2 separate regions of the Homo sapiens genome follow, and region 2 is linked to region 1. The links come from fine-mapping of genetic effects on gene expression. A gene starts in region 1. The other region holds a variant in brackets. All regions are shown on one strand. Distances are between the middles of the regions. Region 1 holds the start of USH1C (USH1 protein network component harmonin). Region 2 overlaps USH1C (USH1 protein network component harmonin).

Region 1 (4,387 bases):
GGGCCCAGAGCAGCCAGTACTTTAATTGCTAGTTAGTTTTGACTGTCTTGTGAGGTAAGTTCTACAAACTCCATCTCATAGCTGAAGAAACTAAAACTCAGGGAGAGTGGGTGGCTTGGTCAAGGTCTTCCTGACAGTGACAGGGCTAAGATTTGGTCCCAGTTCTGCTAACTCCAGATAATAATCAACATGGACATTTCTTGAGAGCTCCCTAAGTGCCAGGGTCTATTTAAGCTCCCCACACACATGTAGGTCTCATTCAGCATTCATGGTAACCTTATTCGTTAAATATTGTTATCTCTTTTCACAAGTAAGAGCACTGAGGCACAGAGAGATTAAGTAACTTGCTCAAGGTCACAGAGCACTTTCCATTATAACACACTACCTTAAATATTACTTCCAACAACTAAGGATTTAGATCACAAACCATTTCTTCCAAAACACTAAGGAAGGGACCCCTACAAAGCAAACAACAGCAAGCTGTAAATTTCTCCCAGCATGTCTGTGTGCCTCCTTTCTATCCTCTGTGCTTCATCCTCTCTCCCCAGTTCCTGGATGATCCCCAACCTGGGAGGGGAAGGCTGTGGCTGTCTCCAAGGCAGCAGGGCACAAAGTCCAGCCTGGGCCTTGCCTAGCGCATGGCGCCTGCCCTGCCTGCACACAGGGATATTAATAAGTAATGACTGTTGCGATGAGGAAGAGTAGGGCAGAGGAAACGTGGAGGTCTGAGGCCCTTTGGAGCCTGTGGGACCTGGGGAAGAGGAACAGGGCAAACCCAGGATCTGCATCAGACACCAGGGACCCTGGAGATGATTCTCACAAAAAAGAGAGAGCAGGTACCCCACAGAGTGAAGGCAGAAGACCTGATGTTATTTCAGGCCAGGGGCAGGAAACTGAAATTCAACCCTGAGTCTTGGGTTGGGGGATGGAAGGCTGAGCTCCTTCAAACTGGGTTGCCTGAAATCTACACTCACAAAATGTCCTTAGTGGCTGAAATTTCTTCCGACATGTCTCTTTGCAACAGGATGTAACAGTGAATGCTCTCTCAAGCTCCCCTTGGTATTCGCCAGCCCCTAAATTCCTGCTGAACTTCCAGCTATCACCCACCCCTGGGAGCAGGACCAGAAATGCCCAAGACCTTGTTTTCAGGAGCCTTCTGCCAGTTTGAGCTGTCCCTTTGTGCCCCTACAAAAGCTTGGCCTCAACACGCAGCACTCAGACATGGGTAATTACCAGGGTAGGGTCTGCCTCCCACCTACACCACCAGCAAAGGGCACAGACTGGGTATGGCTGAGAGGATGCTCAAAACATGCTTATTAAATGAATAACTGACCCCGGGCCCTTGGCCCCAAGCCCCTGTGGCCCCTACACTGGCTAGCTCCTTGGGCTCCTATGGGCCTCTTTATGGGAAGGAAGGAGTTAAGCACCCTGACCTGCCCTACCTGAGCTCAGCTCTCAAACCAGGAAGAGGTTTGGCTTGGTCTAAAGACACTGCCCCTGGGGTCTTTGGGAGAGCCTTGGGTCACACAGTTATCAATAGTTAAGTTATCAATAGTTACCTGCCCCTCAGGCAGGGCCTGTGGGGAGCTCCAGATACCACCCACCCCCCCCAAGCGGCTTCATCCCCAGACTCAGAGGCATCCTAAGACTTGGTGGGGAAGTAGGCTGGATCTCTTTGATGGCCCTCTCTGGTCTCAGGGCCTCAGCAGATTCTGCACAGCTTTGTGAATCATTCTCGAAATGCCCTGTGTGAAACCTGGCCACTTCCAGAGATGGTCCTTGAGAATCCCAGACCACCAGTGAGGCCCCTCACTGGGACACACCAGGGTGGACCCGGCTCTGCCTGAAGGATCTGGCCGGCCAGAGCCCAGCTCCGACGCCCTCAGTACCTCCTCCCTTCCTCCCCACCGCACCCGGGTCAGCACCAGCTCCTCAGCTACTTCTCAGACCCTAAGAAACGCCCTTAGGCAGGCAGGGCTGAAATGCTTCTAACTCATGTTCTGAGGTCAAAAGGCAGAGAGAGAGACGTCTAGTTTCCCTTCTCCCAACCCTCACCTCTCAGATACTGCCCCAGACTGTCTCCACATGCCTCAACAGCCCTGAGCTGGGGGCACTAGGAAGGAGAGGGGCTTGCCCACAAAGGGGGCACCTCAGAAAAGCGGCCAAGACTGGAAGGAATTCAAACCCCAGAGACGTCCCTGCCCCTGGAAGGCAGAGGGAGAAAGGCTGGCAGAAGATCGACTCGTTTAGCAGTCCTTGAGCCGGGAGTCCCCGCATTCCCTCCCTCACTTTACTGGGGATCCCTGCTGCCAGCCAGACGACCCTCGGGTGTCCCAGCCCAACCAGAGCCATCAGGTGGGGCCGGAAAAGGGAGGGGCAGTGCCGGGGTGTCCACCCCCTACCCACCGCGCCCAGGACTCCGGAGTCCCAGAAGCCTGGGGCGCCCTGCAGCTCTGACCTTATGCCGGAATTCTCGGGCCACTTTTCGGTCCATGGCTGGGCCAGGTCCAGCTGCGTCGTTGCACGACCCGTTCCTTCGGGTGCCCGGCTGCCAGGAGCTGGAAAGAGCCGCGACCGCGACCGGGCCAGCCGCCCTCGGAGCTGGGGGCGGGGCCTGAGCGCGGAGGGGCGGGGCCAGGCCTCTGTGGGGCGGGGCCGCTGCGAGGCTGGAGTCGAAGGTGCTGAGTCGTCGCCTCCCACTGAAGCCTGGGAGCAAATGGGCCCCAGTGTGCCTATGGGCCTGAGGTGGCAGTAGCTGGGCTTCAAGCTGGTATTTCTCTGGAAGTGGTACCTGAACACATGCGTTTGAGGAAGAAGATCGTGGAGACGTAGGGAGGAGGTTTGGGACTTTTTTGTGGGGACCGGAATAGAGAGATACGGAAACTATTTACACGGGCGGGGGGCGGGGCAATCTAGTCCGTTTTCTCTGGATATTCTTTTTTTTTCCCCCCCGAGACGGAGTCTCGCTCTGTCGCCCAGGCTACAGTGCAGTGGCATGATCTTGGCTCACTGCAAGCTCCGCCTCCCGGGTTCACGCCATTCTCCTGCCTCAGCCTCCCGAGTAGCTGGGACTACAGGCGCCCGCCACCACGCCCGGCTAATTTTTTTTTTTTGTATTTTTAGTAGAGACGGGGTTTCACCGTGTTCGCCAGGAAGGTCTCGATCTCCTGACCTCGTGATCTGCCCACCTCGGCCTCCCAAAGTGCTGGGATTACAGGCGCGGGCCACCGCGCCCGGCCTTCTCTGGATACTCTTGTCGAGGTTCATGGCCCTCCTGGACTGTCAGCCCTTGCTACGCCCTCACCTCCAGCGTACCTTCAGTCCTGGCTTCCTCCTGCACTTTTCCACCAGGGAGAAATCAATCCTTGTTCTGTGAATTCCTTGGGGACAGGGCTGGGTTTTACTGTGGGCCGCAGGGGTCTGAATCAGTGTGTGTGAGAGTGCCCCCCTCAACTGATTTCCCCTCCCACCTTCCCTAACACCTCCACCCCCAACAAAACAAGACAAAACAAAACCCAAACCCAACACACTCACATATCCATCGAAGCCTGGCAGAGCCTGGCAGTGACATTTTGATCTATGGCTGACCTTCACCCAGGGCCCAGACCCTCTGGTTCATTTAATTCAATTTGGTCAGCATTTGCTTAACTCCTAGGTCTAGTGCTTGGTGCAAAGACAATGATGAACCAGGCCTGGAAAGGAATGAAAGGAAAGATTCATCAAAGACAATGATGAACCAGGCCTGGAAAGAGATGAAAGGAAAGAGGGGCTAGGAGAGGGGTGATAAAAATGTGTAAATCAGAGGCTAAGTATGGGGCTTGTGCCTGAACTTAACCCAGGGAGGCACCTGAGCCCTTTGTGCCCTGTCAAGGGCAGGGGCAAGGAGATGGACAGCAGCTTACATCAGGTAACCACTTACAATTGTAACTCTGGGGCACCTAAACACCCCTCTGCGTCCCTCTCCCCAATAGCTGAAGTTTTACAAGCACACTATTTTTGTTGCCTAGTTTAAGATGTAAATCCCTCTTGGAGAAGAACCTTAAAATATGATCTGTTTTCTCACCTTAGCATTAACTATTAAGTCAGCGATAAAATGGAAAGACTTGTGGGATTTTTGAATGGTCCAGAAAAGGCCACACAAAATGCATTCCCCTCCGACTTACTTCATTGATTCTCTACATTGGAAAAGAATGTCATATGGCTGTTTATTTTGTATTTAGAATCCTGGCAGAGGTGAATGAATGTCCTTATCCAGGGGAATGCTGTTCACCTGCCACACCAATCCTTATTTTACATTGGCCATTACCCCCACAGACTCCCTCCACCTTAAAATGCCCCCTGCTTTGTTTTGAGAATAGCATTGAGACCTGGTTCTCCTCTCTCATGA
Region 2 (4,387 bases), 34 kb before region 1:
GGCAGCAGCTCATCCTTCAGATGGCAAAGTCCTGGAAAGCACAGGCATGTCAATCTCCTCTGCATCCTCTTCAGCACTGCTCCCCTCTCCCCTTCACAGAGAGAGGCCCCAGGCAGGTACTCAATCAAAGTGGAATCAAATTTGTTGAGGAAAAGCTACTGCTCATCTTGATGGAGGCCACTTACAGAGAAAAATGTTGTGCAAGGCTAACTCAGCTCTAGAAACCAGCTCCTGGCTGGGCTCTGGGGAAAGATGTCCCGAGAACAGGCAGATTTCTTCCTGTCAAAGCTGCAGGGCTCACGACCCCAACCAGAGGTCCAGAAAGGGTCCCTCTGAGAGTCTCCCGCTGGAAGCTTCAGCCTTGCTGGCATCTGGCACTTTCTTCACTCCCACCTTCCTTGTAAGCTCTCCTGAGTGCTCTGAGATGCTTGTCCTGCTCTCCACGCAGGAACTCAAATCCATGCAGGGAAGGTTAATAAAAACCACTGGTCAGGTGCTATTGACTATGCCCTCCCTCAGCAACCCCTGCTACCCTCAGCTGACATGAGATGCCTTTGCACTGACTCAAGCCTGGCCTCATGGCTACGGGAGTGGAATAATATTTTGTTTTTCCCTTCATGGGATCCAAGCTCCCTGTCTTCCTCAGAGATTGCATGTTTCAAAATAGTCTTTGGATTACGAATAATTAATAAGAAATATGTCTTTTTCAGAAAGACACTGTTCATCTTCCTAACATCCAAGAAAAACATTCCTATTCTTTTAATAGTAAATTATTTCTAGGAACTCTCTCATCTTCATTTTTTCTATAGCTGGAAATTGGCCAGAAATTTCTGGGTATTACACTTCAAGCCAGTGCAGTTGGCCAGTACTGTAGAAAATGGCACTGGAATGTCCTAATACTGCATTTGATGGTACAGTGTTATCACTTCATTTACAGAGCCAAATACGCCCCTGCTTCCTCCTCCCCTCCCTTTTTTTCCCGTTAAATCAGGAGCCATTTCCCATATTCAAGGCTTTCTGGGATAATATCAGGAAGTGACTGGATGTGACAGAGTGCTGGCTATTCATTAACATAGACTTCCAAGTCCTACATTGAAAGTTACCAGCCTACACTAGCAAAGAAGAGCTAAGAGAGAGCAATGAATATCAAATGGACACACCGTTGCTTACCCCAAAGGTCCCAGGCCATTCACCATACAATACAGCACTTCAAAATCAGTGAGAACCACCATATACATGCAGGATGTCCACACATGCACACGGAGGGGGCATTCCTGGAAAATGGGGTGAGATGATGTTTCTTTCTGTCTCCACTCTCAGGAGCAGTGGAGGACATGGGAAACAGCAGTTCTCCCCACTCTTCCTACTTCCAAACATAGCATGCAGAACAGGGACATTACCTTTGGGGTGGGTGGGAAGCTCTGTTCAGGGACAGGGGAGTTAGTGGGCTTCCCACTGTGGTTCTTTGCCTCCCAGTCCTCCACTGGATTGCCTGTGTCCCCAGTGCGGAAGGGATGGTTGCTCAGTGCTTCTTCCAGCGCCGAGGGCAGTGGGCGGGTGGGAGTGAGGTCTTGGGTGGGAACGGATGGCGGGGGAGGGATGGGAATGGGGGGTGGAGTGCGCTGCACCCATGGAGAGGATGAGGCGCTCACATGGCCAGATAAGGGAAGGACAGGGGGCGCCGGGACCTTGTGGGGTGGGTTGGAGGGTGGAGGGTGGGGCATCACAGGCAAGGCAGAGGGAGTCTTGGGGGGATAGTAGAACATGTCCAAAGGGATGTCGTCCAGGTCAGTGGTGTGCAGGTGCAGTCCGCCTGCGAAGCGTCTCAAGGGTGGGGCCAGGGGAGACACAGAAGGCGGGGGAGGCGGGGGCCCTGTGGTCATCTGGGGGTGTTGCAAGGAAGTTCTGTAATTGTCACTCTGCTTAGAGCTCCACTTCACAATACA[G/T]CGAGCACTATGCTCTTCTAATCTGTTTCTCTTGCTACTGGAGACCCACCACCCTTACATCAGAACCATGGGGCGCCATTCCTCTGCCACCTGGATGCCCAGCTGAGGCCATACTAGGCTGCTGTTAGGGAGTGCCCAAATGCAGAAGAGCCCCAAGTTATGCCATCTGTGGGTGGTAAGGTGTTCACAGAGTTCATTCTCTAAACTGGAATGCCCTTGAGAGTGTAAGGGGGACTCTTAGTCATGATGCCAGGACAACAGGCCTAACTGAGACTATCGCAGATGAGCTGGGACTTAGAGATCACTCTGGGAGTATACCCAGAAATACAGACATATCCCTCCTCCTCAAGAGGGGAGTGGGGTGGTAGGGGTGGGCCTGGACAGTGGATGGGCACTGTGAGGCTAGTGACGTTTGCTAGTTGTCATCTCACCTCCCGCTGTCCCCACAGTGGGTCATTCTGAAGACAGCAGGAGGGTCTATGTGGAAAGAAGGGCTCTGTTACCTCTGAAATCTCATTATCAGCAGAGGAAATCTGCTCGAGGCGCGTTTGACAGAGCCTCTCCACCCAATATTGAATCTTTTCCGATTCTTCAAGGTCTTCCCGCTCTGTCTCAGACACCTGGGACCCAGGATCGGCGCAGAAAGGAGAGGACAAAGGGCACATTTGAATAACATGTGGATAGAAATAGCATGAAAGCACTCCTTTAGAAACTCCAGAGTACTGTGAGGTGCATCAGCTATCTAGAAAGAGACCTGGGCTTGTTCCAACTGGCCCTCAAGGAGGCAGCAGCAAGGGAGAAGAGAGTGGCGGGGTGTCAAATTCACTAAGCAGAACTTGTAGGCAAAATCAGAAAAGGGGCTTATGTATTGTGAGGGATTAGCTGGATCCCAGATCCCCATGAACCCTGAGGCTCTTATGATTTTCCAAGAATGGAGTTTTTGTAGCCTCCCCCAGCACATTCCAAGAGTTTAACTTGACTCTTTTTTTTCCTGCTCCATTCTGCCTTGCCCTCAGAAGCATAAGTTCAATCTTATTTTTAATTTTGTGGCTAATTTGTTCATAATGTCAGACCTAATGCATTTCACATTTTCCAGGACTTCTCTGGTTTTATAATCTAATCAAATTGGCATTCTGATTCATGGATGCGTTAAAGAGAAGCAGAAACAATGATACCTCCTACAGCTGGGGAGTTAAGGTTACCCATCTCACCTAGCATAGGAATTATTCATGGTGTAAGGTTGCTTTGGACATGTCTTCATGGGGACAGCCTCAGATATATTCCCAGGTTGATGAGGTCTAGCCTTAGACACACCCTATGTTGAGGGGAGCAGCCTTAGACTGATAGCCTGATTAATTGGGAGATAACCTCGCACCTACCACCTGCATAAGGGGGTTAGCCTCAGACCCATATTCTCAGAGCCAAGCTAAGTTGGGTGGGGGGGGGTCTGGTCTTACAATAACCTGGGAAGGGAGGCCAGAGTGATTCAGACTCGTAGACAGGTCAGTGGAAGCCTAACTTCAAAGCTACAAGCAAGGCAGAAGGGTTAGCCGCAGACCATACTCTAAGTAGCCTCAGAGCCACACCTGAGATGGAGAGGCCCAGCCTTAGACTCTGGTGGGGTAGAGTGAAGAGGACAGACTCAAATCTCTAAGCCAGGTGTATCAAAGGCTAACCTGAGACCTACCATCTGGTCAGAAAGGCTAACCTCAGACTCACACCCCCCGACCAAGGAGGCTAGTTTCAATTCCAAAGCCAGGAGCAAGACTCACACCCCCAAGCAAGGAGATTAGTTTCAATTCCTAAGCCAGGAGCTAACCTCAGATGGCCCTGGGCAGGTGGCATGATCTCTCTCTCCAGGCTGGGGAGCAGGAAAGGGCTCACTCCACCCTTGTATGCCATTTGAGGAGAACAACTCCAGCTGGTCCTCTGGGAGCACATGGAGAACGACCACATTGTGTCCCAGGGTTGCTTGCCTGGCCTGCAGGCAGGACACATACCTCCTGGGCCAGCCGGTTGATCTTTAGCTGCTTTTCCTTCTCCAGCATTTCCTCTTTCTCTTTGTAAAGCTTTTGCTCAAACTCCAGTTCTTTCTTATTCTTTCTCAAGTCCTGCAGGCTGCCATACTTGGCTTTCTTCTTATCTTTTCCTTTCTGAGTAGATGTGGCATTGTTTATATGACAAAGGTTAGAAATAGTGTCGACAGCACAGCACACGGGGCATCCAGTCCTCACATAACACAACCATCCCATGGTGAGCCCCTCCCCCAGCTCTCTCACCACTCTGGACATCAGACCTCAGGTTTAGGACAGGAAGGCCACTGCTACCTACTGCAGAGTGGGAGACACATTCTCTTTACCAGCCAGAAAGACTGGCTTATTAGTTCACTAACTAGCTGTGTGGCCTTGGCTAAGTTCCTTAACCTCTCTGGGCCTGATTTG

The links. PIP is the estimated chance that this variant, and not a neighbour inherited with it, causes the effect. A credible set is the group of variants that fine-mapping cannot tell apart.
Region 2: its variant is the best candidate, but not a certain one, in a credible set for the expression of USH1C in lung (TOPMed, PIP 0.59).

What each region holds. Positions count from the first base shown.
Region 1 is chr11:17,541,814-17,546,200 of GRCh38, forward strand. It overlaps USH1C (USH1 protein network component harmonin), which reads right to left and starts at 2,603. Exons shown (of 27, transcript NM_153676.4): 1 at 2,459-2,603. The coding sequence starts at 2,494.
Region 2 is chr11:17,507,956-17,512,342 of GRCh38, forward strand. USH1C (USH1 protein network component harmonin) reads right to left here. Exons shown (of 27, transcript NM_153676.4): 16 at 3,947-4,099; 17 at 2,450-2,566; 18 at 1,401-1,883. Among named protein-coding and RNA genes, the nearest start is that of ABCC8, 33 kb to the left of the region's middle. The variant G/T (reference allele first, on the strand shown) is at 1,947.